4 linked regions of the Homo sapiens genome follow. The protein of the gene in region 2 binds, or shares a complex with, the protein of the main gene of each other region. Each region holds a gene or a part of one and is shown on either strand. Other genes may lie near its edges.

What was found.
Region 1: TAF1C (region 2) and RRN3 share a complex: the UniProt entries of both Homo sapiens proteins name them as parts of the pol I pre-initiation complex.
Region 3: TAF1C (region 2) and TBP share a complex: the UniProt entries of both Homo sapiens proteins name them as parts of the transcription factor SL1/TIF-IB complex.
Region 4: TAF1C (region 2) and POLR1B share a complex: the UniProt entries of both Homo sapiens proteins name them as parts of the pol I pre-initiation complex.

The regions. Positions count from the first base shown.
Region 1 is NC_000016.10:15,060,857-15,068,820, forward strand, and holds part of RRN3 (RNA polymerase I-specific transcription initiation factor RRN3), read right to left. Parts: intron 7,422-7,964; coding exon 7,313-7,421; intron 4,516-7,312; coding exon 4,363-4,515; intron 2,428-4,362; coding exon 2,340-2,427; intron 1,050-2,339; coding exon 888-1,049; 3' UTR 1-887. UniProt on the Homo sapiens protein: Required for efficient transcription initiation by RNA polymerase I (Pol I). Required for the formation of the competent pre-initiation complex (PIC).
Region 2 is NC_000016.10:84,173,324-84,181,139, forward strand, and holds the end of TAF1C (TATA box-binding protein-associated factor RNA polymerase I subunit C), read right to left. Parts: coding exon 7,720-7,816; intron 7,673-7,719; exon of another isoform or gene 7,545-7,672; intron 7,022-7,544; coding exon 6,847-7,021; intron 6,761-6,846; coding exon 6,623-6,760; intron 6,529-6,622; coding exon 5,618-6,528; 3' UTR 4,532-5,617; downstream 1-4,531. Other genes in the region: DNAAF1 (dynein axonemal assembly factor 1), read left to right, coding at 1,346-1,399, 2,610-2,976, 4,191-4,283, 4,406-4,518. UniProt on the Homo sapiens protein: Component of the transcription factor SL1/TIF-IB complex, which is involved in the assembly of the PIC (pre-initiation complex) during RNA polymerase I-dependent transcription.
Region 3 is NC_000006.12:170,565,858-170,573,821, reverse strand, and holds the end of TBP (TATA-box-binding protein), read right to left. Parts: intron 6,905-7,964; coding exon 6,813-6,904; intron 4,211-6,812; coding exon 4,043-4,210; intron 2,413-4,042; coding exon 2,318-2,412; intron 1,637-2,317; coding exon 1,557-1,636; 3' UTR 963-1,556; downstream 1-962. UniProt on the Homo sapiens protein: The TFIID basal transcription factor complex plays a major role in the initiation of RNA polymerase II (Pol II)-dependent transcription.
Region 4 is NC_000002.12:112,555,965-112,563,928, reverse strand, and holds part of POLR1B (DNA-directed RNA polymerase I subunit RPA2), read right to left. Parts: intron 6,020-7,964; coding exon 5,848-6,019; intron 4,637-5,847; coding exon 4,355-4,636; intron 1-4,354. UniProt on the Homo sapiens protein: Catalytic core component of RNA polymerase I (Pol I), a DNA-dependent RNA polymerase which synthesizes ribosomal RNA precursors using the four ribonucleoside triphosphates as substrates.

The sequences.
Region 1 (7,964 bases), about 69 Mb from region 2:
AGTGATGCAGATCAAAACTGACTCGATCTAATGGCCACCAAGGAGCAGTTCTAGATCTAAGGGGACACTTGAGAGCCAAGGGGTCAAATCCAATCTCATGTGTTTTACACAAGCCCGAACTCACTTTCAGTCTGTGTGAATTACATCTACCTGGACCTCCATTTTTGTCTTTTAAATCCATTTTTTCGCTGTGCCAAGTATATTACACATCTGATTCTGTTTCCCTATATCCTCTCTCTCTTCCCTATGGGCTTTTATTGGTCTCTGAAGTCCCTGGAGATCTTCAGTGCCAGCTCCAACTCTGTGTCCCAGACCATGTCGGGCCAGCTCTCAGCTTTCCTTCTGTCTTCTCTACACTCCCTTGAAATCCCAACAGACAAATACCAATACAGCAGAAGGTGAACAATGTAGCCAAAATAAACACTTTCTAGTTAAAGTCTTTAAATAGAAGTTTTATCTTAGAGGATTCTTCACTGAAAGCTCATCAGTCAAGTCCTAAGACCATGGATCTGACAAAAACCCATGTTAAAACAGCAACCCGTAAAACAGTCTGCTGCCTATATTAGAAATTACCCAGTAATTGTGTCAAAAAGCTGTTAACACAAAAAATGTACATATTAAACAAGCAAATCCTTCCAAATGTATCATCAACCCCACTGTAAAAGATTGCACATGATAGTCTTCATTTTGTCTGTAAGGGGAACAACAACAACAAAAAAACCCAGTCTTCAGATGCTTGATTCAGTCGAACCTGGAAGTGCCACAGCCGAGGCAGGCACTCGCTCTAGTTCAATGCCATCAATGCCCAATGGCACAAGCTGGGTGCTGAGGGCATGACAAGTGATGGGGAATCCCAAATGTCACATCTCAGTCACAAATTTCTGCCGTCAGAGGGGACTGGGTTGCATGTACAACACGGGTGGGGAGCCCACACTACTTGAAGGACTTCGGAAATGCGTGTCAAAGGAGCTTGGTGTGATCCCAATCACGGTATCATTCTGGGGCACTTCGCCTTTCAGAAAGTCATCATCTTCATCTTCCACTATGTCCTGCAGAAACATCAGAAATCATCAGTAACATCACCAGTGCTGACTGAAAAGCTTTCAACAATTCCTTCCTCAGGAAGGTGTTAACGTTTGTAAAGATGGTGAAGAAAATATCTTAATTTCAAAAGAAAGCCAGTGTAGTGGCACACGCCTGTAGTCCCAGCTACTCAGGAGGTGGAGGTGGGAGGACTGCTTGAGCTCAAGAGTTCCGAATCCAGCCTGGGCAACATAGCGAGACCATGTCTCTAGAAAAACAGAACAGAACAAAAGCTCCCTCTGATAAGCACTTCCTTCTTACCAACATACCCACATAACTGCTCATCACACATTGTAATCATTTGTTTCAAGTCTGACTTGCAAACAGATTTGAAGCTCAATGGGGACAGGAAACATGACGAGTCATTCTTGCCCAGTGTTAGGAACTCTTGTACCTAACACAATGTGAATGAATTACACGCCCCTCAACAAATGAAACATAAAGAAAAAGATGAAAGGGGCTTTCCAATGATTACTTATTAAAAACAACAACAAAAAAGCCATCTTGAAGCTGCTTTTAATGAGAAAACAAATGTGCTCCCAAGCAACAGAGCAGCGAAATTCTTTATTACTGGATTCTAACTTTCCTCTCTAACTGTAACTGTCTCAGCTCCACCTCATGTGACCTGGAGGGTATGTTGCAACCTGCGTCTTCACCACCCATTCATGAAGATCTATAAAACTAATGTAAACTGCTGGGGCAATTTCAACATGAGTCAACTGGAGATTGTTACTTGGTAAGAATGCGCAAGTGGCAAAGATCTAAATTCATTCAGCTAATTTGTAATTAACCTTCGCTTCTCACATGTCAGTATGTGAAGTGTCTGGTTTAAGCAATTTATCCAAAAAAGCCATAGACTCTTTAAATAACAACAAAACCTGGGCCTGGAATTTTATAAAGGCAGAATGAGTAAGACACGGTTTTGGTGTGCTTTTTTAAAGAAAACAGGGTCTTGCTCTGTTGCCCAGGATGAAGTGCCATGCTGCATTTACAGCTCACTGCAGCCTTGACCTCCCACCTCAGCTTCCAGAGGAGCTGGGATTACAGGTGTGCACCACCACGCCCAGCTAATTAAAAAAATTTTTGTAGAAACAGGGTGTCACTGTGTTGCCCAGGCTGGTCTCCAGCAATCCTCTGGCCTTGACCCCCTAAAGTGCGGGGATTACACGCACGAACGACTTGCCACTTACTATCTCACTGTGACCTGGAACCAGAAAGGAGATTCCGAGAGTGTGCTCAATCAATCACAAACTGACCTTTTTCATGGGTTTCTTGAACTCCTGTAGCTCTTCAGCACTCATGTCTTCCCACACCTGATAAATAGGATCAATGAATTTCTTTGACCTGTCAACAAAGATCACATTTCAAAGTCAAGTTAAATACTTCGGCAGAAGTCAAAATTGGTTTGGATCTTTTCTCACAAGATCTATTACCCAAAACCAAGAAGTGAAAACTACAGCTTAAATAATTACATTTAAAAAAAACCTGGCTGGGTGCAGTGGCTCACGCCTGTAATCCCAGCACTTTGGGAGGCTGAGGTGGGCAGATCATGAGGTCAGGAGATCGAGACCATCCTGGCTAACACGGTGAAACCCCATCTCTACTAAAAATACAAAAAATTAGCCGGGTGTGGTGGCGGACACCTGTAGTCCCAGCTACTCGGGAGGCTGAGGCAGAATGGCCTGAACCTGGGAGACGGAGCTTGCAGCGAGCCGAGATCGCGCCACTGCACTCCAGCCTGGGAGACAGAGCAAGACTCTGTCTCAAAAAAAAAAAAAAAAAAGAAAAAAACAAAACAAAAAAACAACCCTCTATGTAAATGCTGTAACTAATGTGGCTCTTTCTGTATAAGAGTTCATTCACTCATGTCGATGGAGTATTGAACTACCGTTTTTCATCTTTCCATTTTCATGTGAAATTGTTTCTAAACTTTACAAAGACTCACAAGTCAGTTAGATACAGTATATCCAAATGGAAATGAAACCGTAATATTCTGGAACTCTCTTTTTTATATTTCTGTAGTAATTTGCTGAAAAGTAAGTCTAGGAAAAACAACTAATCTGGTTTCAGTCAACCAAGACTTCAGGGACCAGACAATCCCAGATGGTCATGATGCTGCTAGTTATTTTAGAAACCATAATAAGCAAAAATCCTGCTTCCTTATACAAGTGCCAAGTTAAGGCTGGCCCAGTGGTTTTCTAGAACAACTCATCTAGATAAATCGCTTTTTGTTTTTTTTTTGTTTTGTTTTTCTGAGACAGAGTCTCACTCTCTCGCCCAGGCTGGAGTGCATTGGTGCAATCTCGGCTCACTGCAACCTCCACCTCCCGGGTTCAAGAGATTCTCCTGCCTCAGCCTCCCGAGTAGCTGGAATTACAGGCGCCACCACCACACCCAGCTAATTTTTGTATTTTTAGTAAAGACAGCGTTTCACCATCTTGGCTAGGCTGGTCTTGAACTCCTGACTTCAAGTGATCCGCCCGCCTCAGCCTCCCAAAGTGCTGGGATTACAGGCATGAGCCATTACGCCCAGCCAATCGTTTGTTTTTCGTTTATCCTGTGCAACAGAATGGTATGTGGTCTCTAGAGGAAGGAACAAGACACTTGGCAGAAAATTATGAAGCAAGAAAAGACAGCACCCTCCCCTATCCTGGCACCATTATCCCCATTAACCTTACATGTTTAAATAACAGTTTAAAGAAAAACAAAAAACAAAAAACCCTTGATGTCAGTCTGGCTCCTAGTGAGGCAAAGATCTACCCACTCTGGGGTGCCTGCGCCACTCGGCAAGTCCTGCTAGGCATCCTCTACTTTGCATCTGGTGAAATATACGCAGGGAGACCACGAGATGCTCATCAACAGCGAGGAAGGGCCACTTCTGGTGAAGAGCCCTAAATCCCAATTTTGGGAAAAGCAAACATGTATCACGTTTAAATCCACCTCCTGGCCGGGCGCGGTGGCTCACGCCTGTAATCCCAGCACTTTGGGAGGCCGAGGCGGGCGGATCACGAGGTCAGGAGATCGAGAACATCCCGGCTAACACAGTCAAACCCCGTCTCTACTAAAAATACAAAAAATTAGCCAGGCGTGGCAGTGGGTGCCTGTAGTCCCAGCTACTCGGGAGGCTGAGTCAGGAGAATGGTGTGAACCCGGGAGGCGGAGCTTGCGGTAAGCCGAGATCACACCACCGCACTCCAGCCTGGGCGACAGAGTGAGACTCCGTCTCAAAAAAAAAAAAAAAATCCACCTCCTCCAGCGTCAATGTTTAAAAGTACCTACCTCTTCAGCACACAGGGATCAAAGGGGAAGAAGGTGTCCAGCGGGTTTGTGCAGATCTGCACTGAGTCTCCTCCAGCGGTACTCCTAATGACTGGCAGCATCTGGCGATTGTTCCTCTCAATGATGGTGTAGCAGAAGACGAGCTGGTACTTACTGTGGAACAAAAAAACAACACAGACAGAGGCATTAACATGCTGGAGTGACTCGGTGCAGATGTGAGCTGCGTGTGACAACTGTACCTACCACAGAGAAATTGCTGAATATAACAAGTGCTAGTAAAAATAACAATATAAAGCAGAAAGTAACACTTTTAGGGTACCGTTCTATGGGTCTTCTATTTGCAAGTTTGCTAAGGAGAAAGAAAACGTGGCTATCACTCAGAATGTGAAACTGGGCTTATATTTTAATGAGTAATAGATATTATTCATTATATTTTAATGAGTAATAGATACTATTCATTAAAAATAAATGTTTGCAAGGCAAAACTCTTAGATTACGTAACTATAGGTGTCTTTATTTTTACTGTTTGCAAAAGAATTAGAAGGTTGGTGGTAAAGGGATTCAGGAGTTACTCAGGAGGAAATAGTGGTTGGTGAAGAGACTTGCTGAAGAAGCACTGAAAAAGAAATAAGCCTTTACTGAAGGAGGGACACGGGGTTGACTAAGTCATGACCTCAAAAACAGGCACAGAAAGGACTAGGCATGCCGAGTGAGAACAGTTAAATGCATAGAAGAAAACATAAAATAAAGACAATTATGTTTTTAATTTTTCCAGTAGTTGTCTCTAAATGATTGAGCAACTTGAAAAATTATCTATTGGACAGCTTCTCCAAGATGAGGACTCAGATCTCACTTCTGTCACTCTCCATCTCAGGTTCTCAGGTCACCATGGCAACTTCAAGCCACATACTTTGATTTCTGTCCTGTTAGCCAAGGCTCACAGCACTTGACCCCTCCTCCTGGTGGAGGACACATCAGCAAAACCACACTGGAGGGTGGTTTGCACTATCAGGTAAAGTTGAAGATCTGCATCTCCTACAACCCCGCAGCTGACCGCACTTCCGGGTGTGTGACAAGGAAGCATGTGCCCACACACAAGAATGTTCCTGAGCACTAAAACACTAACACAGCCGGCTGGGCACGGTGGCTCACACCTGTAATCCCAGCACTTTGGGAGGTTGAGGCAGGCGGTTCACTTGAGCTCAGGAGTTTGAGACCAGCCTGGTCAACATGATGAAACCCCATCTCTACTAAAAATACAAAAATTAGCTGGGCGTGGTGGCAGGCGCCTGTAGTCCCAGCTATTCGGGAGGCTGAGGCAGGAGAACTGCATGAGCCTCGGAGGTGGTGGTTGTAGTGAGCTAAGATCACGCCACTGTACTCCAGCCTGGGTGACAGAGCAAGACCTTGTCTCAAATAAAAAAAAAAAAAAAGACAAAAACTAACAGATGAAATCCCAACAAAGACTCAATAAAAAAGATTCCCAGAACATAACACAGCAGTTAAAATCAAAATAAAGCTTTGTGTCAATATGGTTCAATCTCAAAAGCATCAAGCAGGCAAAAGCAACAGCTACAGAATGGTACACGCCTTTATTTACCATATCTGTACCTAGGCAGAGACTTTTATTTCAATCCCCTGCTCTTAGCCTCACATCGCATCACACTCTGTGCCTCCAATGCGCATGCCAACCCCAAATCGAGAGCCCCTGGACCAGATGGTTCACAAATGCAGTCCTCTGTCCCCACCCCGAGAACATACCAGGGGCAGCGGCCTCTGCTTTGCTTCATCCATCCTCACTCTTTGAGCTGCTCACCATCTTAACCAACGTGCTGAAGCCTCCACCCACTCACTGCCGTTGCTTATTGGTCTCTTTATGCCTTTTCCTAATCCTTTACTATCACTGAGACTCAGAAGAGAGGACACCTTGAACCAGACGCCTAGCAAAGGAGAACTAAAGAGGCTGACGGAGCTCAGCAAGCTGTTGGCTCTTATCTGTTGAAGATTTTAAGCTATGATCCGGCCTAAATATCCTCATTGAATATTCAATTCTCCAATTCGCTTTCTCCATAAAGCAGAATAACTTAGTGAAAGCTTACAAAGGAGCCAGACTACATTTAAATCTGTGCTGCCAGTCTAGCTCTATGACTTTAGGCAAGTGATTTCACCTCTCTGTACCTCCACCTCCCTGTTGATAAACAGGGTTTCATCCTAGAGGATCAAATGAGTTCTATGTAAAGTGCTTAGAACTGCCTGGCACAGAGGAAAGGCTATGGATTAGCCATAGCTACCAGACCTGAGAGAACAGAACTCTCTAAACCAATCTCTTACAGGTCAACATTTGCCTCATGTCCAGTTTATTTCTATTACTATTACAGGAGTCACTCTAATAAGCATCTATGGCTTTGCCCCTCTCAGCTTACTGGTTGCCATACTTATTTCAAAGTGCTGCCCTTTGGATAAGAAGTAGTAGTAATTTCCAACGCCATCAAAGTATAAAAACAATAGCTGTATCACAGTATTTCCTGCAAGGACTGGGTTGTTTTTGTTTGTTTAAGAGACAGGGTCTCATTCTGGAGCCCAGACTGGAGTGCAGTGGTACAATCAGGGCTCACTGCATCCTTGACTTCCTGGGCTCAAGTGATCCTCCTACCTCAGCCTCCTGAGTAGTTGGGACTACAGGCACAGGCAACCACACCCAGCTAATTTTTAAAATTTTTTTGTAGAGATAGGGTCTCACTATGTTGCTCAGGCTGGTCTTTTAACTCCTGGCCTCAAGCAATCCTCCCACCTCAGCCTCCCAAAATGTTGAGATTACAGGTGTCAGCCACCACGCCTGGCCTTTTATAATGTTACTAATTTCATAGAAATTTAACACTCTTACAATACTAGATAAACATAAATAAAAATATTTTAAATAACTCCCATCAAGAAAGCGTAAATAACTTACTTTGTGATTGCAGCAAAAAAGTTAACCACTGAGGGCAGGCAAATCTTCAGGGGATTTAGCTGGCTCATCACTATCCGCTCAAAATTCAGACTCTGAAGATACTGCAAACCTTTGGTTTAAAAAAAAAAAAGATTTTTTTAAAGGTACAAATAAGTGAAAAGTGTAAGATACTTTTAAAAGCACAAATTATCACACATTTAAAAAAAACTTTAAAAAATTATTTGCAGAAATGCTTTAAATAAAGGTCCATGCAGATAGTCACACAGTATATGGCCCAGAAGAGTATCACTAGGCTAACCACATTCATTGGTCACCAAGGCAGCTTCTCTAAAGAAAACTTAGGAAGTAGCAGGCTGTAAGATTCCACGACAATGTGAAATTCATATGTTTGCAAGCTCAGTGTATGCTGAGATAATACAGAGGGAGAAAAGACCTTGTGATTTGGTTTCAGCTAACAATCATGACAGGCAACAAAACAAAACAGCAATTTGATTCTAGCTTGCATGTCTTGTTAGTGAAGCTGAGTGCTGTTTTCAGGTGCACAGTAGTCATCTGTAGTTTTTTTTCTAAACAAGAAAACTCCAAATTTGCCTTCTACCTCAACGGACGGCAAATTTAGACAGAAACCACTTTCTTAGACTTAATGAATATA
Region 2 (7,816 bases):
TGTGGTGATGGGCACCTGTAGTCCCAGCTACTTGGGAGGCTGAGGCAGGAGAATGGCAGGAACCTGGGAGGTGGAGCTTGCAGTGAGCCGAGATCACGCCACTGCACTCCAACCTGGGCGACAGAGCGAGACTCCATCTCAAAAAAGAAAAAAAGAGTTAAAGTGATCACGGTCAGAATTCACAGTGGGTTTCTAGTTTTCTGGAGCTATGTAAAAAAAAGAAACAAAGGCCAGGTGTGGAGGCTTACACCTGTAATCCCAGCACTTTGGGAGGCCAAGGTGGGTGGATCACATGAAGTCAGGAGTTTGAGACCAGCCTGGCCAACATGGTGAAACCCCATCTCTACTAAAAATACAAAAACATAAAAAATAAAAAAAATAAAATTAGCTGGGCGTGGTGGCAGGTGCCTATAATCCCAGCTACTCGGGAGGCTGAGGCAGGAGAACTGCTTGAACCTGGGAGGCGGAGGTTGCAGTGAGCCAAGATCTCACCACTGCACTCCAGCCTGGGCAACACAGCGAGACTCTGTCTCAAAAAAAAGAAAAAGAAAGGGACATAATTGGGCAATTTATCTCTCACATTTGAGAACTGACCATATAGATAACTACAACACTAATAGCTAATGTTAATTGGTTTCTTATTATATGGGTGACACCATTCTAAGCATGACTTGTATTGATTGATGTAACCCTTCCTACAACTCTAAGCAGTACATACTATTATCATCCCAATTTCCCAGATGAGGAAAATGAGAAACAGAGAGGTTAGGCAACTTGCCCAAAGCCAGACAGCTAGAAAATGGTGGTGGGGGAGTAACAACCTAGGCACCGTGGCTCCAGTTCATGCATCCAACCACACACTATGCTGCCTCCCCAACCACGCACTGGTTGTTATGGACAAAGATACCGAACAAACACCCACAATACAAAACAAAAAAGTCCTACAAGTTTTGGGGAGGTACAAAATATATTACTTTTATACCACATAGAGTTTTCGGACTAGTTTGTACAGAGGTGCATTTGGTTTGGGTCCCATTATTTCCCCCAAGATGAACTGGCTGTGTCTCTTAATAAAAAAGCAGAAAAAAGATGTGGAAATTCTTTAAACACGTCACACCTTGCAAGTTCCCTTTCATTTATTAGATCCAGACACCTGAGGTGGCAACGCTTGCTTTGTGTGTATCTAGAGTTCCTTTTGGTGGGGAACAGGCAGGCGAGTCACCTGAGTGATTTGAGTAACTGTAACTAAGGCTGGGTTGACTGCGTGTTTGCCTTTATCGTGCCTATCAGAACGTTGACAGTGCGTGTACCTCCCTGGTGATGTGCGGCTCACTTGCTCTTTCAGGACCTACCTGACTTGGAAGATGATGATGAAACAGGCAAATCTCTGGAAGACCAGGTTAAGGTCATTAGAAACCATTTTCCCACAGGCAGCTTAATTCCACCTTCGTTCTTGTCGTTTACCGTTTCTCTCCTAAACTTGAAAGTAAAATGTTCCCTGTGCATAAAGCATTGAATTCCCCCATATTCTTTTTCTTTTCTTTTCTTTTCAGGCAGAGTCTGGCTCTGTCACCCAGGCTGCAGTGCAATAGTGTGTTCTTGGCTCACTGCAACCTCCACCTCCTGGGTTCAAGCAATTCTCCTGTCTCAGCCTCCCAAGTAGCTGGGATTACAGGCATGAGCCACCACGCCCAGCTAATTTTTGTATTTTTAGTAGAGATGGGGTTTCTCCATGTTGGCCAGGCTGGTCTCGAACTCCTGACCTCAAGTGATCCACCCGCCTCAGCCTCCCAAAGTGCTGGGATTACAGGCGTGAGCCACCGCACCCAGCCCACATCCCCCATATTTTCACCTTGCTGAAGGAAATGCCATTTGTTCTTGTTCAATTTCTTTAAGATTTTATGATGAACCACTTGAAAATCTATTGCTGGTTTGTAACAGCTGAGTACAGTGCATAGTTAGCTGAAAGTACTTTCTGTCATTAAGATGTATTTCTATGTCCATCCTATGAATGTCTGTCTGAATATAGGGGAAGGAAATGAAAACAGGAGAGGGGAAAGAAAGGGGTGAGTCTGTGAGGCACAATGGGGAATTCTCTCAGAGTGACGTGACCCTACTCCACCCAGAGGCCATTACTGGCATTACCAGGAGCCCACACGTGCCAGACCCGTACCCTGAGGGAGAAGGAGGCATCAGCCATCATCTCTGAGCACGAGCTCAGCAGCAAAGAAAACAGACACAGTTACTGTGGGGGGCCTGCTGTCCAAGGAGCTAAGTCCCAGAGAGTCTGTGAAGGAAACGGGGTTCAGGGGCATGCCAAGCAGAGCCCAGGGCTCAGGGGTGCGCCCTCTCAGGTACCAGGAGGGTGAGGAATAGCCAGTGGCTGGGGGAGCAGAGGGCAGAGAGAAGGGCATAGACATGAGCTGTGCCCAGGGAGTGGCCACCCCCAGGCCTAACTTTCAGAGTCCTGTGTTCCCTTGGGCCTTTCTTGGATGTGGCAACAGAATACTTTGTGACATTGGGTGAAAAAGCAGAACTGGCATGGTGCATTGTAGAGCGATTCTGTTGTGAAAACAGAAACTTTCAGACACCTTTTCTTCTGTAAATAGAATATGTGCTTTCCGAAGATTGAGGTCATCTCGAGCTTGAGTGATGACAGTGACCCTGAACTGGACTACACGTCACTCCCTGTGCTGGAAAACCTCCCCACAGACACTCTGTCAAATATATTTGCAGTCTCTAAAGACACCTCAAAGGCGGCTCGGGTGCCCTTCACAGACATCTTTAAAAAAGAAGCTAAGAGGGACTTGGAAATCCGAAAACAAGACACCAAGTCCCCAAGACCCCTGATCCAGGAGCTCAGCGACGAGGACCCCTCTGGCCAGCTACTGATGCCCCCCACCTGCCAAAGAGATGCTGCACCACTCACTTCCAGTGGAGACAGGGACAGCGACTTCCTTGCAGCCTCTTCTCCGGGTAAGAGCGTGGGGCCGAGAGCACAGTGGAGACAATGTTGGCTCCCCGGCCTGGGATGGGTGGGGCAGGGCAGTCACTCAGCCTTACCCTGAGCTTTCATGTTGCTGGAGGGGTCACCCAGGACAGACCACACAGATCCTCTGAAGGTCCCATTCCTGAGTTCACGGGTCTGAAGCTGCCACTTGCTGGTAGCCAGCCTGGGCCAGGAAGCCACCGAGCCAGCCTCCTCTTGGGCAGCCGAGTCTGACTGTGTGTGGGGGTCACAATCCCCCTGTGGTCATGCAGATCTCCTGGGGCGGGGGCCTAATGACCGTGCATTTCCACCCCCTCCTCACCATCCCTGGCCTCAGCCTTTCTAGACCAGGGCTTTTGGAGGGGACCACCAACACCACTGCTGGGGAGTGTGGGGCAAGCGAGGTGACAGCCACACAAGGGCGTGGCTGCTTCACAGTGACCCAGGCCCGGGTGAATCACAGGCCAGTCCTAGTGGCCTTCAAGGCAGGGAAGGCAAAGGGGCAAAGGGGCACCAGGCAGGGACGGCAGCCAGAGGCCTGGCTGCAGAAGACCCAGAAAAACATGCTGAATGTACCGGGGCCTCCCCTCATACTGCAGGCTGGTACATGTGCCTGGCAGATGCGGTTTTGGGGAGCAGCCGGTTAGTGCTGAGAACAAGCAAGCTGGGACTGTTTTTTCATTCAGCATCTGCCTTCAGGTGCACTCCCAAATTGGGGGCTGTGTGGAGCCCAGACCGTGCTACTCTCATCCAGCACGCATCGGTGGCCAGGCTTTTTCCTGAAGACAGCTGCCTGGCTGACTCCAGACTTGCAGGCAGGAAGCAGGGAGTGGCCTGAGTGCATTTCCCGGGAACACTGAGTGGCCTTCTCTTCCACTCTAGGAACCAGCACAGAAAAGTGCAGTCTGAGCTGGAGCCCGTGCAGCCTCGGGCGGGGGCAGGCCTGGAGGACGTTGAATAATTTGTTTTTGTTTGTTTTGTTTGAGACAGTCTCGCACTGTGGCCTAGGCTGGAATGCAGTCATGTGATCTTGGCTCACTGCAACCTCTGCCTCCTAGGTTCAAGCAATTCTCCTGCCTCCGCCTCTGAAGTAGCTGGGATTACAGGCACCCGTCAAGGGATTTTCCTGCCTCAGCCTCCCCAGTAGCTGGTATTATAGGGGCCTGCCACCACGCCCAGCTAATCTTTGTATTTTTAGTAGAGATGGGGTTTCACCATGTTGACCAGGCTGGTCTCGAACTCCTGACCTCAGGTGATCTGTTTGCCTCGGCCTCCCAAAGTGCTGGGATTACAGGTATGAGCCACCACGCCCAGTTGAGGACACTGAATTTGGCCTGGACTGAACCCCAAGGCTGCCCCCCTGTCCTTGCAGTCACAGTGACAGGGAGAAAGCACAGGTCACCCTTCCTTCCACAGTGCCGACTGAGAGCGCCGCCACACCCCCAGAGACGTGTGTCGGAGTTGCCCAGCCCAGCCAAGCTCTGCCCACGTGGGACCTCACTGCATTCCCAGCACCGAAAGCATCATAGTTTTCCCCAGTTATATGTAGCATAAATGGTTTAATCATAAATGTCTCCCTTAGGCATGATAAACATTTTAACACCCACGCGAGTCAGTGTATGATTGGGCTAGCTCCTGTTTGTGTGAGTCACATGCAATTCCTTTCACCAGCCAACCTGAAAAAAGACCTTTCTCTTACTATGTCATCAGAAACCAGACAGACCCGGGTCCCTGCAAAATCTCAAGTGAGCATTTTCCCCACAGGAAAACAGAATCTTCCACTGCAGCTAGAGAAACTCCGAGGAAGAGGGACTTGATGCTTTAGACATCAAAATGAGAAGGGGAGGGAGGAAAGAAAGGGGGGAGTCTGTGAGGCACAACAGAGAATTCCCCCAAACTGACATGACCGTGACCCTCTGCTCAGAGGGCACTATCGACAGCCCACAGGTGCCAGACCCATGTCCCAAGGGAGAAGGAACATCAGCCATCATCTCTCTGCATGAGCTCAGTGTCAGGTAGTAGCTGTGGCGGGACGCTGTCCAGCCTAAAAAACGTGACCATTCCAATTCATCTTCAGCTGCCAAGTGTATTTAGTCCCTGAACCTGGATCCAAGGCATCTCCCTGTAGGAAACATCAGACCGGGGCAGAGATTGACAAAGCAACCCACAACAGCAGCTGCCAACGGCCGCTGTGCCCACCTCATCAGCAGCTCTGCAGGGGCCTCACTCCACCCTCACCAAACACGAGGAGCCAGCACTCCTGGCCCCCATTCCACTGGACAGGAAGGCGTGAGAACTGAGGGACCTGCCTGAGGCCCCCACAGCTGAGGCGCAGCGGAGCCCTGCCTCCCAGCACAGACTAAAATCCCAGCAACACAGGCCCACCGGCACCTCCAGCCTGCCTTGCGGGATGATCTTCAGGCGAATATACAAAATACAAAAGAAACTACTACTGTATTTTGTTGCCCTGTCCCTTCAACTTGGCTCCAAATTGCTTGGCTCATCATCACAGTGGCCTCCAGAAGGTGGCGAGCTCTGCTTCTCAAGTTTCAACTGTGGAAGGCACATCTGGTCCCAGAGGAAGGATGAGGGGCTCTCTGGGGCTTGAGGGCAGCCCACCTTGTGTCCTCAGAAGCCCATTCGAGGCTTCTTCCGGAGGGGCTGAGAGCTAGAGAGGACGGGTGTGTGCTGCTGGGAGCGAGTGGCCCGGACGCTGGAGGCCTGGGAGTGGGGAGGTGTGGTGGCACAGCCTGGGGTGTCCCTCTGGGGTGGTAGCTTGGCCATGTAGTCACGGAGCATCTGCCGCTGCTCTGATGGGACGCCCTGGGCGCATGCATCCGGAGTCAACTCCTGGGAGGGCGGGGTCGTGGGGGGCAGGGGCAGAGCATCAGCAGGTGGCCACTCAGGGCTATGAGGGGAGCTGGTGTCCTCTGAGGGATCCACATGGCCACTGAGCGAAAAGCTGCTGGACAGCTGGGTCCGGCGCTTGGGCCGCCTGGTCTGTCTCCCGGGCTCCGAGGTCCTGCCCTGCTGCCTCTCCCACCAGGCAGCCCCTCGGCCTGCCCAGGCTTCCCCCAGGCGCTCACTGAGCTTGTCCTCTAGGCCTGACTCGGGTGCAGGGGGTGGCTCTGCCGCAGGGAGGGAGCCCAGGTCTCTCTGCAGCAGGAGCTGCCCTCGGGCCATGGCCTTGCGGAGCACACCCAGCCGCTGCCCTTCCTCTTCCTCCCTCCGCAGCTCTGTGCTGCCCAGCATCTGGCGGTGGGTGAAGGTGGGTGCTGTCCACACAGGAGGAGCCAGGGGCACTTTTAGCAGGGCCTTCAGCCACTGGCTGCAGCCGGCAGTGTCCTGGGAGGTCCAGGAAGCTGTGGGGGCATGGCAGTCAGGTTGGGTGTCGCCAGGAGGCCCAGCATCTCTGCGGAGGCTGGAGTCCACCTGGGGGCGGAGCTGCTGGTAGAAGACATCTCCCGCCGCCGAGAGCTGGAAGAGCACCAGGCCTGGTGTGGGCGCTGAGGGCAAGGGCGGGACGACGGCAGCCAGACCTGGTGACGGGAATGACAATGACCTCCAGGGCCTAGCGGGGGGAGGGGATGTTTTCCACTGCGCCCCCCAAGCTCACTCCCCCACCCAGCACACCTATGGTCGGTGCTTTCAGGCGCTCCTGCAGCCGCCACTGGATCTTAGGCTCCAGCAGAGGAAATGCAGGGAGGGAGTCGATCCTGGAAGGAAGAGACTGGGGGGGGCCTGCCAGGCGGGGCACCGACGCCCCTTCTCCTGAGGAAGGACAGACAGCTGAGGCCCTGTCCAGGCCCCGACCGCCCCATCTCCCACACGCCGCCCACCCTGGCCTGGACCCTCACCTGCCAGGTGCAGCAGCTGCAGCTGCCCACCCTGGCCTCCGAGGAGCAGGGGCTGCACGCAGCTGGGCCGGGGCGGAGGCAGCAGTCGGGCCAGCAGGAGCGGGGAGGGGAGGCCATGGTTCCACTTCAGCATCGGCACCAGGGGAAGGCGCTCGTCCACTAGGTAGAGAGAGAACTGGGGCCCGAGAAGGAAGGGGGATGTGGCCGAACTTGGGAGCTGAGCTGTGTAGTGGCCCTCCAGGCCCCATGTGGCTCTCCAGGTGAGTGCAGAGCCCTGAGGGGCAGCAGCATCTCCCATCAGCCTCCACGTGCCTCTCAGACTTCACCTGCCAGCCCTGAACAGGTGCCGCTTCCTTCACCAATTCTGACCGACAGTCCGGTGGACAGACAGAACAAGTGGGAAAGGGGTGCTCAGAAGAGGTGTGGGGGAGCCTTGCCAGCAGAAACCTGCCTGGCCTTCTCGCAGCCACCCCCACTCTCCTGACCCGGGAGCCTGTGCTCGAGGCACGCCTACGAATGTCCCCGGGAGGGCGGGTGGAGGACAGACCTGCTTCCTCAGAGCCCCCGCCTCCTGCACAGCAGAAACTCTCCAGCTCTGCACGGAAGCCCCACCCCGAGGCCCCTCCTCCCCTGCTCCACCCCTGGCTGCACCTCGAAGCTCTACTAAGGGGAGGCCCTGGGAGAGCTTCCCCACCTGCCTGTTAGCACCGACTGTGGGATCCACTGCGTGTTTGGGCCACAGATTCATCCAGGGTTGAGTTTGGTTTGCTGGGTGGTTGTCTGGGCCCAGCAGAGCCGCTGGTAAGCAGCAGCCTCTAGTGACCATCTGAGACAGAGCAGAGGTGGGGCGGGGCGGTGTTGTGTGCCACTCACCTGGGTACAGACGAGATGAAGAGTAGGGGGGAGGCATTTGGGGCTGGAGTGCCCCAGGTACTGGGTAAGCAGGACACGTTCCCCTTTCTGGCACGAA
Region 3 (7,964 bases), on a different chromosome or scaffold from region 2:
CATGCACCGTTCTCTTTGGACTGCAATCTGGTATCAACTGATTAAAACTCAGAATGTATAGTCTTTAGTTCCTCTTCTAGGAAAGTTTACTACATGAATACCTGCACTCATCCGAAAAATACACATACAAGGATGTTCCCTGCAGCGCTGTTGATGATATTGAAAAACTAGAGGTCATGTAAATGACCATAATTACAGGAATAGCTCAGTAAGTGAAGGTACCTAAGAAGAGTATCCTAGATTCCCAATCATGGAAATAGGTTTATGATATATTGACTGAAAAAAGGGAAAGCTATAAAATTGAATGTATTATTTCTTTTTTCCAAAAATGGGATCAAATGCCATGCCCAGAAGATAGACAGAACAGGGCTTAGAAGATACCCACTAATCTGGTCGTTATCTTGGGGAAAGAGGCAGAAGAGAAAGGAAGGAAGGACCTCCCCTTTCTGATTTTATTCCTGAGTCAGCTGAAGATGTACTTTTACAATTAAAAACAACAAACCACTCTAACAATAAAACCTAAGAACCCACAAATGTCCACCTGATAGTCCATGAGAAAAAAACTGCAAAACAAGCAAAAAAAAGTTACTGCAGAGAGTTGGCAGCCTGTGGATAGGGCACCAGCTTCTACACCTGAAGGACTCACTCATTTTTACCACTTACTAGCTGTGTAACCTCAGCCAAGTCCCTCAGCTGGGGCTTCCTTATCTCCTCACCTCCAACAGAGGAACAAAACGTAACTGAAGCTTTGTGAGGATTCCAGGCATTGTATGCAAAATACCTAGAAAACAGGAGTTGCTCAATATATGGAAGGTTCTCAGATCATTAATCTGTTTTCATTGCAGCATACAATGAAATACTGACTGAAGCAAACACCAAAATGGTTTCAGGCATTATATCTAAAATACAACTTTGTAGAAAACAGTATGATCACATGACTCTTACAAGGTATAACAACAATCTAACACTTTTATAAACTGCATTTATTGTACAGAGTACTCTGAAGAAAGAAAAAAATATGTACAGCCATTCATTTTCATTAACACATATATTCTGTCCTGCAATACTGGAGAGGTGGAATGTGTCTGGCACAGAAATAACCCCTAGGAGTTATAAATTAGAAAAACAACACTTTTAAAAAAGATTTTTACTTTTCTGGTAGAAATATAAAAACTGTGGTTCATGGGGAAAAACATTAAAATTAAAAAGTCCAATCAATTATAGAGGTGGCTTTAACACTTAAAGTTTTCTCCCTCAAACCAACTTGTCAACAGCAGTGTTTAAAATCTACATATAAATAAATGGGCAGCGCTGCCCAGATAGCAGCACGGTATGAGCAACTCACAGTCACGCTGCGCGGTGTTCTCAGTGCACAAATAATGCCCCTTCCCGGCATCCCGCGGTGGGCACTTACAGAAGGGCATCACCTGGTGCCACACCCTGCAACTCAACATCCATCTTCTCACAACACCACCATTTAAAGGTACCAAAACAAACTGATTTGTTTAAAAAAAAAAAAAGAAGGGGGTGGGGGAGGCAAGGGTACATGAGAGCCATTACGTCGTCTTCCTGAATCCCTTTAGAATAGGGTAGATGTTTTCAAATGCTTCATAAATTTCTGCTCTGACTTTAGCACCTAAGAAGACAAGTTGGAGTAGAGATGAGAGACTGAAATGGCACTTCTTAACATATTAAGATGGTAAAATTCTTACCTTAAAGCTGCAAGCACAATTCTCACCATACCCAGTCAGATTAAGGCACAGGCATGAAAACATTAATAGTGGAATCCCTTGTCACAATCTTATTTTTGTTTATAAAACAATACTTTTAAAAAATCATCTTAGTGACTCCAGCGTCTCATTCTATAGCTCAAGAGGCATGTATTCACACTTCTCTCCTTGGTCCTGAACCAGGCCATAAACCAAGCAGGACGGCAATGATAACAACTGAATCTTCTTCTCTGAATTGCTGCCTTCAACTAGACTCATTTCTGAATCTTCCTTTCTTGTCTCATAATCATATTGCTGAGGAATCCTAAAGCTTCAGATAACTAATTCCAAGTGAAAACGCCATCTTTTGTTCAATGCAATGCTCACCTCCTCACTGTAAATGGAAGTCTGCTTGCAGAGCTGTGGTCAGACTTCCCTGCTCTCACTGTGCCTTTAGTGGGCACGTTTCTCATCAGACTTTGGGTGGGAGGCCTTTGTACAAGAAGCTAGCCCACTGTCCGAACACTGAAATTTCTTTTCAGCACTGAGAAAATGCCATACTCAAAACACTTACAAACTTTCAGATACTACTTCCTGTTACAACTTACCTGTTAATACAACTTTTCCAGAAACAAAAATAAGGAGAACAATTCTGGGTTTGATCATTCTGTAGATTAAACCAGGAAATAACTCTGGCTCATAACTAGAAGGAAAATTGCAAAAAGTTTAGAAATCAAGAGCTTTGTGTGCTTTTAGATAAAATGAGGACCTGTACAAGGAAAAATACTGAATAAACAAACTAGTCAAGAGGTAAAACACAGTTCTTCAAGCAGCATCAAAGGATAGAATAGAATAATTAAAGCAAGTGAGGCCGACTTGTAGTCGTCAGTTGATAACCACTGGATGGAAGGCTATTTGTCCTCCTATCACTTTACCCTATTTCTATTGAATCTGGATTTTCTGATTTAAGAAAAAGAGCCCTGTAGTTATGTCTGCAGTCTCTATATCATTAGATATAATGATATCTAATGCAGATAATAATCCTTTACTTTTACAGTCCTAATAATTACTATTACAGTCCTAATAATCATTTACTTCTAAGATCCAATACTGACAGTTTAACTTTTAATCATATCTTACCTCCTTAAATTGAAATATTCTCTAGCTGACAATTGTGGTCAGGAAATTTAATCAAACTTATATACTAGCCTGAGAATTAACCTATACCTGATTAAGCTGTCTGACTGAATGGACTATTGGTATATATTCTTTTTTTTTTTGAGACGGAGTCTTGCTGTGTCGCCCAGGCTGGAGTACAGTGGCACGATCTTGGCTCACTGCAACCTCCATCTCCTGGGTTCGAATGATTGTCCTGCCTCAGCCTCCCATGTAACTGGGATTACAGGCATGCACCACCATGTCCAGCTAATTTTTGTATTTTTAGTAAAGACGAGGTTTCACCATGTTGGCCAGGCTGGTCTTGAACTCCTGAACTCAACTGATCTGCCTGCCTCGGCCTCCCAAAATGCTGGGATTACAGGTGTGAGCCACCAGGCCAGGCCTGGTACATATTCTTCTAAGCCTAGTAATCTCATTTTTCTCAGTTCGGAGAGACTGAAAACAGGATGCCTCTGTTTCTGTGTGTCTGACCTAAGACAAAATTCAGGACAGGCTTCTCTGAGGAAGAGTGGAATGGGTAGACATATGGAACTCAAGTGGGAGCTTCCTAGGTGAAAAGGGAAATGAGCATACTAGGCATAAAAGTGGCAAGTGCAAAGGCCTAGGGCAGGAGGAACCAAGTGAGCCCCAGGGGCACACAGAACTAATGTGCCTGTGAACAGACACCAGAAGACCATGAGATGAAGCAGTGAGGTGGGCAGGGCTGCCTGCCTGTGAGTCTTCACCTGCAAGTAGCAGGGAAGATAATTAGAAAGTTGTTCCTATCGCTCAACTTCACACTTTGCTGGTAGATCTGACACAATGTTGACTAAAAGAGAAGATCCAAACTGGGAAAAAAAATTGATACAAGGTTAGGGTCAATTCATGCATTCCAAGTGTATTCAGCAATAAAACGATAAAACATACAGAAGTAGAATCAAATTCATTCCAGTAAAGGGGAGTTATGGGTACCGCAAAGTGATAAGGGAAGCAGAGGCTGGTGAGGGTGATAAATATGACTGAGAACATCAGGAAGACAATGCAAGAATACATACAACTATAACCATGTCAACTGTTCTCATATACTGAATATTTTGCATGTGTTTTATTCTGAACAATGTTTAGATTATAAATGAACTGTTGCCAATAACAATCATAATACATTTCAGACTTACCTACTAAATTGTTGGTGGGTGAGCACAAGGCCTTCTAACCTTATAGGAAACTTCACATCACAGCTCCCCACCATATTCTGAATCTTGAAGTCCAAGAACTTAGCTGGAAAACCCAACTTCTGTACAACTCTAGCATATTTTCTTGCTGCCAGTCTGGACTGTTCTTCACTAGGGAAAGGAAAAAAGTGAGTTATTCATACTCAGAGCCAGCTAAAATACTTATTTAGACTAATAACTTATAAAAAGTCCAAAACAGTAAACTAATAAAGTGTAAACTGGTCAGCCTTCTTGCAATAGGAGAAAAGACTGACAGGCATTCACAATTCCTTATAAAGTATTCCTGGATCCTTGACAGAAAACTGTAGGCCTGCCAAAATGACCTTTCAATCCGCCAAATTATTGTAGCCCTAGATTTTATGGATGTGAATTATCACCATCATCAGTCATCACTATTTCTGTATTTTAGCCCATGCATTTCTACTGAGAGGAAAACTAACAAACTTCATTTTGATCAGAAAATGTTGATGAGATTTATTATTGAACAATGTATTCACTAATTCTATCCTCTTTTATACCAAGACTCATCATGAATAGACATTCCTATGTCATTTGTTGAATAAACTACGACTTAGCAGTTCAGAGCTTACATAAGAAAAGCAGAATGTGGGCCAGGCATGGTGGCTCACGCCTCTAATCCCAAGCACTTTGGGAGGCCAAGGCGGATAGCTCACCTGAGGTCAAGAGTTCGAGACCAGCTTGGTCAACATGGTGAAACCCTATCTCTACTAAAAATACAAAAATTAGCTGGGCATGGTGCCAGGCACCTGCAATCCCAGCTACTTGGGAGGCTGAGGCAGGAGAATCACTTGAACCTGGGAGGTGGAGGTTGCAGTGAGCCAAGATTGTGCCACTGCACTCCAGCCTAGGTGACTCCACCAAAAAAAAAAAAAAAAAAAAAAAAAAAGAAAAGGAAAGAAAGAAAGAAGAGAAAAAAAGAAAAAATAAAAGAGAAAAAGGCAGGCAGGCAGGTCGGGCACGGTGGCTCACACCTGTAATCCCAACACTTTGGGAGGCTGAGGCAGGCGGATCATGAGGTCAGGAGATTGAGACCATCCTGGCTAACACAGTGAAACCCCATCTCTACTAAAAATACAAAAATTAGCCAGGCATGGTGGTGGGCACCTGTAGTCTCTGCTACTCGGGAGGCTGAGGCAAGAGAATGGCGTGAACCCAGGAGGCGGAGCTTGCAGTGAGCCGAGATCATGCCACTGCACTCCAGCCTGGGCGCAGAGCGAGACTCCATCTCAAAAACAACAACAACAACAAAAAAGAATGTGAAAATATTACCATAAAGAGACTATCAGGTGCAGGGGATCAGGAAGAACAAAAATCAAGCATATATATATATGCTACGCTTTTAAATTTCAGGTAAATGTATTGGTGGTTTCTTGTCTTGATGAAATAGTCATCCAACTACATATACAATATTCAGTTTTCAGATGCTCTGGGACAAAAAGGCTAAATGCTGCATGAAAAGCTTGCCTTGATAAACCAAAAGTTTCTGATGTTCCATGCAGGGGAAAACAAGCAAACAAAAACGCTCTTAATTAAAGAGGTTACTACTGCATGTTGTGGCCAAGGGGAAGTGAAAGGCAAGAACACATCCTTGTCCTGCATTCTGAAAAACCTCGGAGATCAGGAGCCAGAATGTCCACACCAATGGCATTCCCATCACTGAAAGACAATTTCAAACTTCAGAATAAGCAAAAATATCCACAGCCCCCTTCTATGTGTTGATACCTCCAAGTACATTTAATACTCTTTCATTTAAAAAGTTTTAGTTTATTTGTTCAGTTCATTTATGAAGCTAATGTCACTAATTTTCCCCCTAGTTTTTGACTTCTACCAAGTATATAAGCTCTGTTTAGAACAGTCAGGGCCGCAGAGTACTAACCTTCAGACAGGATCACTTCAGATGGAGAATATAGGCAATGACATTTTATAACAAGGGTGCATTCCTTAAGATCTGCACAACTCAAACACTATTAATGAAAGCTAGTTCCAGTGAGAAGGCAGGTTTCTGCAGCCAACACATGTGATGCTGTCACGCTGCCAGGCCCAATAAGGTCTGCAAAGCCCTTACACCATTAGCTTAGAAGTGTTTTAATTCTTGATCAATTTTTTCTTCCATTTCAAGATGTATTTGTGTTATTTACAACATTTTTCACATAAAGGGAATTTTATTAATAGTTCTGATGTTGTATTACATCTTACCTAATTTTTTTCTTTTTTCTGGAGAAAGTGTCTTGTTCTGTCTCCCATGCTGGAGTACAGTAGCATGATCTCAGCTCACTGCAACCTCCACCTCCCGGATTTAAGCGATTCTCGTGCTTCAGCCTCCCAAGTAGCTGGGACTACAGACATCCACTACCACGCCTGGCTAATTTTTGTATTTTTAGTAGAGATGGAGTTTCACCATGTTGGTCAGGCTGGTCTCGAACTCCTGGCCTCAAGTGATTTGCCCGCCTTGGTGAGACACCACGCCTGCCCATATCTAATTTTTAAGAAAATGAAATCACTGCTATCTAACATTAATAGAATCAAATAATAAATAAATAAATAAAAATAATTAATAGAATCATATTAAAATGGTTTTTATAAGAAAGCAATAATAACATGTTAAAGTGCTAACCTAATAACCTAAAAACAATGAGATATCACCTTTTCATTCATAACCCATAGACCAGAAGAATGAATTTCTTACGGCTACCTCTTGGCTCCTGTGCACACCATTTTCCCAGAACTGAAAATCAGTGCCGTGGTTCGTGGCTCTCTTATCCTCATGATTACCGCAGCAAACCGCTACAATGGTCAGAGAGAATCATTAGTGAGGTCATGCCAAACTGCTCAATGTTGTTAGGCGAACCACCCATTGACAAAAAAATCACAACTGGTAGGAAGGACATAGTACATCTAGTTATCAAAATATTTGTTCTGTATTTCTGTATATCTGTAAAGGATTTGCATACACCACATGTAACAAATATTCCTTTGCATAAGGAGCAGAAAATAATCAATTGTGACTAAGTTATACCAAATCTGTATGTTCTTTCACATGAGCATTCCATCAAGAGAAATGTTTGCAAAATTTGGTTATGTTCTCAATAAATACAAGTGCTTCTGTTTCTACTTTATATTTGCTGCTTATCATGACTATAGCTTCTCTGATACATTTTGTTTTATTAATATGAATTTTGAGGCAAATAAACCAATAAACCTTTTCTACCTTAATGGAATTAATAAATCAGATTACAAGCCTATCAATACGTAATGAAGTAAAATCATGCTTTCAATTGGTCTTTAGAAACAATATTAATGTATTAAACACATAAATGCAAATTAGGAAAAAAACACAGTTTTAACTTTTATTTTCTGCTTTTTATGCTTGAAACATGTTAATTCTTTCAGAAAATTTTCTTGCTAAGGTGGTAACTCAAGGGGAAAATATTTCAACTGTGGGTTGAATTAATGGCCTCAGTTATTAGGTACATGATAAAAAGCAAATAATTACTTTGAAACAACTTAAATATTTTAATACATTTAATTATACAATAAAAACCTACATGTTTCTAATTAAGACGACTCTTTGACAAACTAGATTGCTTTAACAATTTTATTTTTTTATTTTATTAATTTTTTTTTTTAGAGACAAGAGTCTCACTTTGTTGCCCAGACTGGAGTGCAGTGGTGCAATCATGGCTCACTGCAGCCTCGAATTCCTGAGCTCAAGAGATCCTTCTGTCTTGGCCTCCCAAGTAGCTGGGATTATAGGTGTGTGCCACCAACCCCAGATAATTTTTTAAATTTTCTGATGAAACAAGGCCTTGCTATGTTGCCCAGGCTCGTCTTGAACTGTTGGCCT
Region 4 (7,964 bases), on a different chromosome or scaffold from region 2:
ATGAGCAAAAAAAATGGGTTTGTTTTATTTTTGAGACAGGGTCTTGCTCTGTCGCTCAGGCTGCAGTGCAGTGGCATGATCATGGCTCACTGCAACCTCAACCTCCCAGATTCAAGCAGTCCTCCCACCTCAGCCTCCCGAGTAGCTGACAGGTGCGTGCCATCATGCTTGGCTAATTTTTAAATTTTTTTTTTGTAGAGACAGGGTCTCCCTGTGTTGCCTAGGCTGGTCTCGAACTCCTGGGCTCAAGCAATCCTCTCGCCTTGGCCTCCCAAAGTGCTGGAATTACAGGCCTAAGCCACTGTGCCCAGCAGAAATGGTTTCTTGAGATGGGATCTCAAGAAATGAGAAGATGCTGTAAACATTGTTGAAATGACAATAAAGGATTTAGATTATTTCATAAACTTAGTTGATAAAACAGCGGCAGGGTTTGAGGGGACTGACTGCAACTTGGAAATAATCTCCTCTGTGGGTAAAATGCTATCAAACAGCATCACATGCTACAGAGAAATCTTTTGTGAAAGGAAGATGCAATTGGTGTCGCAAACTTGTTTTATTTTAAGAAATTGTCACAGGCCAGGCGTGGTGGCTCACGCCTGTAATCCCAGCACTTTGGGAGGCAGAGGCGGGCAGATCACGAGGTCAGGAGATCGAGACCATCCTGGCTAACACGGTGAAACCCCGTCTCTATAAAAAATACAAAAAAATTAGCCGGGCGTGGTGGCGGGCGCCTGTAGTCCCAGCTACTCGGGAGGCTGAGGCAGGAGAATGGCGTGAACCCGGGAGGCAGAGCTTACAGTGAGCCGAGATCACGCCACTGCACTCCAGCCTGGGTGACAGAGCAAGACTCCATTTCAAAAAAAAAAAGAAAAAAAAAAAAGAAAGAAATTGTCACAAGCTGGCCGGGTGCAGTCACTCACACCTGTAATCCCAGCACTTTGGGAGGCCGAGGCAGGCAGATCACCTGAGGTCGAGAGTTCGACACCAACCTGACCAACATGGAAAAACCCCGTCGCTACTAAAAATACAAAAAAAATTATCCGGGCATGATGGTGCATGCCTGTGGTCCCGGCTACTCGCAAGGCTGAGGCAGGAGAATCACTTGAACCTGGGAGGTGGAGGTTGCGGTGAGCCGAGATCGCGCCACTGCACTCCAGCCTGGGCAAGAGCGAAACTCCGTCGCAAAAAAAAAAAAAAAAAGAAAAAAAAGAAATTGTCACAAGCCATCCTAACCTTCAGCAACCACCGCCCAGATCAGTCAGCAGCCAGCAACACTGAGGCAAGACCTTCCACCAGCAAAAAGATTACAACTTACTGAAGGGTCAGATGATTTAATATTTTTTAGCAATAAAGTATTCTTAAAATTGAAATATTTACAGCATAGTGTAAACATAACTTTCATATGCACTGTGGGAAACCGAGAAATTCATGTGGCTCACTTTATTGCAGCGCTCTGGAACCAAACCTGCAATATCTCCGGGGTAAGCCTGAAGGCTTTTGTATTGCTTGTGGAAGTTTAAATTGCTTCAGCAAGGACACACAGGAAAGAAGTAGCAAGGGGACAGGGGCCTATGGGAGGGAGCATTTCACTGTATGTCTTAATATTTTTATTTCTAAGCCACCTAAATGCATTAAATGCATTAACCCCCAAAATGTAATTACAGTTAATCCTCATTATGTGCACATTTGCCTACTTGCTACATTATCTCTGTAACCACAAAATTAATACTGGGGATGCTTTCAAAGTCATTTCAGAACATGCAGCAAAAAACTTTGAGTCCCCCGATGCAGATGCTCCCCGCAGCTGAAGTCAAACAAGACGATGCCATGCCTTCTTGTCAGCTCATACTATAAACAAGTGCCCCTTGCCCAGTCTGTTCACTGGCACGTTTTCAGCATTTTTGTGCTTTTTGTTGGTGTGATTTTTTGTTGGAAGCTGTTTAAATAACAGCTTCCAGGCTTCGCATGGTGGCTCACACCTGCAATCCCAGCACTTTGGGAGGCCAAGGCAGAAGGAATGCTTGAGGCCAGGAGTTCGAGACCAGCCTGGATAACATAGCAAGACCCCATCTCTACAAAACAAACAAACAAACAAACAAACAGAAAAAACAAATTGCCTCCGAGTGCAGCACTGAAGTGCTGCCTAGTGTTCATAAATGCAAAAAGGTGTGATGTGCCTAACAGAAAAACATGTGTGTTAGATAAGCCTATAATTACACTGCTGTTGGCTGAGAATTCAATGTTACCACGTGAACAATATATATTTTTAAAGGGTGTCTTTCAACAGAAACACACAAAAAACAAGGCTACATATTGATCGGCTAACAAAAATGTTGTAACCCGAGGCTTGAAGGAACCTTACCCTGTATTTCCCCTAGGCACAATGGTTCAATATTCACTGGTAACTTTAAAGATGAGTACTACAAATAATGAGAATCAACTGAAATTAAGTAAAAAAAAAAAAGAACACTCTTCCATGAACCATAAATACATTCTGAAGACATCAAGTGTTTGTTAGAGTGTCAGAAGTTACCTGCCTCGTGTTTCATCTGTCACCACAATATGAACATCTCTATCGAAAGTTAGGTAGCGATTCCGTCTTCTTCTCCAGTGCTAGAGCAAAAAACCCTTCCCCATCTCTTTTTCTGCAGTTGGATATACTTTCTACCTCTCCACTTTCTCTTTTCTCCTTTCTACCCTCTCCTGGACTTTGACATTTTGAATCACGAGTAACAAAATTCTTTTCCTCGTAGAGGATAAACCTTCAAATTACGCTGATTACATCTTCTGAATCTTGAGTATTTCTTGATTACTTTCTGTAGGGCCCTCTTCTTACAGGCCACTCTCTCTCTCTTTTTTTTTTTTAGATGGAGTCTCACTCTGTCACCCAGGCTGGAGTGCAGTGGTGCAATCTTGGTTCCCTGCAACCTCCACCTCCTGGATTCAAGTGATTCTACTGCCTCAGCTTCCTGAGTAGCTGGGACCACAGGCACATGCCACCACACCCAGCTAATTTTTTTGTGTGTGTATATTTAGTAGAGATGGGGTTTCACCATGTTGGCCAGGTTGGTCTTAAACTCCTGACCGCAAGTCATCTGCACACCTCGGCTTCCCAAAGTGCTGGGATTACAGGCATGGGCCACCACGCCCGGCCAGGCCACTCTAATTGGGAGAAGTACTTTTAAGCAGAACTTTCTTGAGTCAATGCCCTTCTAGTTGCCTGAGAACACTTATCATCTGATCCCCATGAACTGGAAGTTTTACTGCACACATATTAATCCCACTGAGGACCCTGTCCACAGACCACCAAAGACAGAACATTTCTGTCTCCAAATCATAAATGGAGAACCCTGGGACTAGAAGACTGCAGAGAAGGCTGACATCTTTAGGTATGAAAGTAAATTCAAACCAAGTATCAAGCCAAGCAGAGACAGAGACAGCAGCTTTAAGGTTATCAGGAAAAAAGGTTATATATCTGATGATATCAGGGTAGACTGGGAAACCTCCTTTTAAACTGTCCTCCTGCAAACCAACACTGTTTTCTATTTAGAAATGCAAAGATCCGCCAAGAGATGCAAAAAGAAATGACCCAAAAAACTACTCAATAGCTTCTATACTTCCAATATTAATGACTAGTCTATTTCGAATGCTTTGGCATCATTCTTATTCATTTATTTTTCATTTTGGAGATAGGATCTCACTTTCTCACCCAGTCTAAAGTGCAGCAGCGGCACAATCACAGCTCACTGCAGCCTCAAATCCCTGGGCTCAAGCGATCCTCACTTCCATTATCTTTTTTTTTTTCCCAAAGAAAACAAAGTACCTATAACACTTAGTTTCTCCTGTTTTCACTTTCAAAGAATGCATTCGGCCTTCTACAGAGGAGCCAAGAAAGCAGCCCAACTCCTGCACAGAAGAGTAAAAAAGAATTCTTACAGAAAATCTCTGCTGAATCTCCAAAAGCAGCACAACTTAACAGGTTAAAAACCACGTAACCTTGGCCGGGCGCGGTGGCTCACAACTGTAATCCCAGCACTTTGGGAGGCCGAGGCAGGCACATCACGAGGTCAGGAGATCGAGACCATCCTGGCTAACACGGTGAAACCCTGTCTCTACTAAAAATACAAAAAATTAGCCGGGTGTGGTGGCGGGCGCCTGTAGTTCCAGCTACTCGGGAGGCTGAGGCAGGAGAATGGCGTGAACCTAGGAGGCAGAGCTTGCAGTGAGCCAAGATCGCGCCACTGCACTCCAGCCTGGGCGACATAGCAACACTCCATCTCAAAACAAACAAACAAAAAGAACACAAAAAAACCCACATAACCAAACAAGATGTTTATCACTGTACACTACATACCCAAGTTGCACAGTAAAGCTGGAATAGATGCCGTATACACAAACTGTGTGACAACCTCACATACGGCAGTTAGGTGGTTCATCAGGCCACAGGGCTCCCCGTCTGGGGTATGCACGGGACAAAGGAAGCCCCAGGACTCTGGCAGCAGCCTGCGTACTGTGGTGGTCCTCATCTTGGCAAAATCAGCCCCTCTGTGCACGCAGCGGAAATGGGAGAGGTAGCGTATGAAGTTCAGCTTGTCAGCCACAACACAAAGTCCAGAATCTTGTAGGAGGCCAAGACCTTAATAAAACAAAAGTCATTCAAAAATGGGCCAATCTTTTGAAAAATGGAAATTGTTGAGGCTTTATGACGACAAAACCTCAGAGCACTCTACAGATCATAGAATGAATTATTACAACATTTATTCTCCTAGCTCTGATGAGTGTAAAGAGTTCACAAAAAAATATGTAAAATAATCCCCAGATTTCACAAACTGTATTAGCCCCAACTAGTTCCCTGTCTCCTCTATGACCTCCTTTGTGGGTGAACATTAAATGAGTTAATAAAATAGCAAGTAGTTAAATTCATCTGAGAGAGTCAGATAATAGACAAGCAAGAAAGCAGGCTAATGAAAGAATCGGCAACAGTAACATGGGTTTAAAAAAAAAAAAAAAAGGCGGGGCACAGTGGTTCATGCTATAATCCCAGCACTTTGGGAGGCCAAGGTGGGTGGTTCACCAGAGCTCAAGAGTTCCAGACCAGCCTCAGCAGCATAGCGAAACCCCATCTCTACAAAAAATACAAAAATTAGCCAGGTGTTGTGGCTTATGCCTGTAGTCACAGCTACTCGTGGGGCTGACGTCGGAGGATCACCTGAGCCTGGGAAGTCAAGGCTGCAGTGAGCCATGATCCTGCCACTGCACTTTAGACTGGGTGACAGAGTGAGACCCTGACTCAAAAAAGAAAAAAAAAAAATTCTGAATTCCCAATTACCACTTTTTAAGTTTCTAGGGTCATTCTCTTTTTTGTTGAGACAGGGTCTCACTCTGTCACCAGGCTGGAGTACAGTGGTGCAATCACAGCTCACTGCAGCCTTGACCTCCTAGGATCAAGTGACCCTCCTACCTTGGTCTCCCAAAGTGTTGGGATTACAGGCATGAGCCACCACACCTGGCCTCTCAGGTCACTCTGAGGCAAGGCAAATGGTTTAGAGATGGGCATGTACAGCAACCCATCTAGAGTTCCTGTTAGGTAAGCCTTCCTCAGAGGTCTAAGTGGCCTTTCATTTTCTAGAAGGAAGCAGAGAAAATGTATTCAGTTATCTGAATTAAATTTTAGCTATACAGACACCTTGTCTAAAGCCCTTTAGACCAATAGTTGTCGAAGTCATAGTTATGAGAAATTTACTTTTTTCGTGGGGTTTGCTTTTAAAAAGAACTCTCAGGGACAGGCAAATCTACACTAAGCAACTAATTTGAAAAACATAACTAAAACGATCGATTTAATTTTACCTGTTTTAGAACGCAGATTCCCAGTAGCAAAAAGGTATTCAAATGGTTTTGTAAGGTCTATGCCCATTGTAAAAATCCTCATCAAATTGTCAGTGTTCATGGAAACACTGGTCTTCTGAGCCTTCTTATCAAAAGCTATTTTAATAGACACTAACCAACCTTCCAGTTTTTCCTGAAATAAGGAAAAAAAATTAATATAAAATAGTATGTGAGCCAGGTGTGGTGGCTCACATCTATAATCCCAGGATTGGGTGGATCGCTTGAGACCAAGAGTTCAACATGAGACTGGGCAAAATGGTGAAACAAAACCCTGTCTACAAAAAAATTAGCCAGAGGGGGTGGGGTGAGGGGGTGGGGCGTGCCTGTAGTTCCAGCTACTTGGGAGGCTGAGGCGGAAGGATCGCTTGAGTCCAGGAGCCTAAGGCTTCAGTGAGCCATGACTGTGCCACTGCACTCCAGCCTGGGAAACAGGGCAAGACCCTATTCTCAATAAAATAAAATAGTATGTGTTTCAATTATCACAAACTTCATATTTATTCCCATGTAATCTGTACGATCTTTAACAAACGTCTACTAACATACATCAAAACCAAAAACCTGAAAGAGGGCTTTTCAGGTGCAGAAAGGATAGCTCTTCAATGTGATGCCCTCCTTCACCCATTATACTTGTTATACATCTAAAACCAATCACACGAACTACACAGTCCATCTTAATCTATGCTGCCAACACTAAGTGAAAAGCCTAAAGCAGCCTGCAATTCCAAAATTACAGCTAGACTGGAGGAATGAGTTCTGGTATTCTGCAGCAATGTAGGTTGAATACAGTTAACTATATTTGTTGTATATTTTTTCACTGCAGCCTCAACCTCCTGGGTTCAAGGGATTCTCCTGCCTTAACCTCCTAAGTAGGTGGGACCATAGGTATGTGCCACCATGCCTGGCTAATTTTTAAATTTTTTTTGTAGAGATGGGGGTCTCACTTTGTTGCCTAGGCTGGTCTCAAACTCCTGGGCTCAAGCAATCCTCTTGCCTCAGCTTCCAAAGTGCTGGGATTACAGGCGTGAGCCACCACACCCAGCCTTATTGTATATTTTCAAAAAGCTAGAAGAGGGGATTTCGAATGTTCACAACACAAAAAAATGATACATGTTTGAGGTGATGAATGTGTTAATTACTCTGATTTGATCATTATACATTATTGACATATATGGAAAAATCACTGTATACCCGATAAATATGTACAGTTATTACATGTCAACTAAAAATAAAAGAAAAAAAGACTATACACCATCAGCGCTTTCTATGGGTGGTTCAGAAACCACTGAAAATACCTAAGAGAATGTTTGAGATAGGTTCTCTCCTATATTTGATATTTGGAAGAAAACGTGGAAGATGTACATAGGTCACTCATGTATACCTTTTCCAGCAGGCCCCTGAGTCAACACATTAGCCATTGACTATTGATAATCCACCTCTTCAAACTATCAGTGTTTGAACACTCACACTTGGAAGACCTAACTATTCTTCCAGAAGACAGCACTGGAAGTGACACATTTCATTTCTGCATATTCTCTGGCACTGACACTGCATTTAATATCACTGTGGTGCAGTAATATTAAATTTTTAGTACTTGGAAGGAATAAATTTTGGAGAGGTGTGGGAAGAAGGAATATATTTTATAAAATGTTACAATGAATCTCACAACTGACTACACACTAGTAGGATTTGTAAGTACACTGCTAAAAATCTGTAATGTACAGATAAGGGAATTACCAGGGAGTGAAGGAAGCTGTTAGCTCACCCAACAAGGGTATTAATGTAGGTTTGGACTTTATCAAGTGAAACTAGAGAATCAAGTTTGAGTAGAAGAGCCTGGCATCACTGCTCCACCTCTGCTGGTTGCTGTTTAGATTCCTTTCTTGAGCCTACATCTTCCTGTGTCATAAATGTTTTTATCAGGTGTACACTGAACACTTCATCTTCACAGTCAAGATGGAATAAGAAGCCCTGGATCTTGACAACTGATTTGTTTGTGTTCTTCTCCCTTTTTTTTCATAACTATGTCTACTTCCTTATTTGGGTTTAAAATCAAAACCAGAAAGGCTAACTGAAGTGTT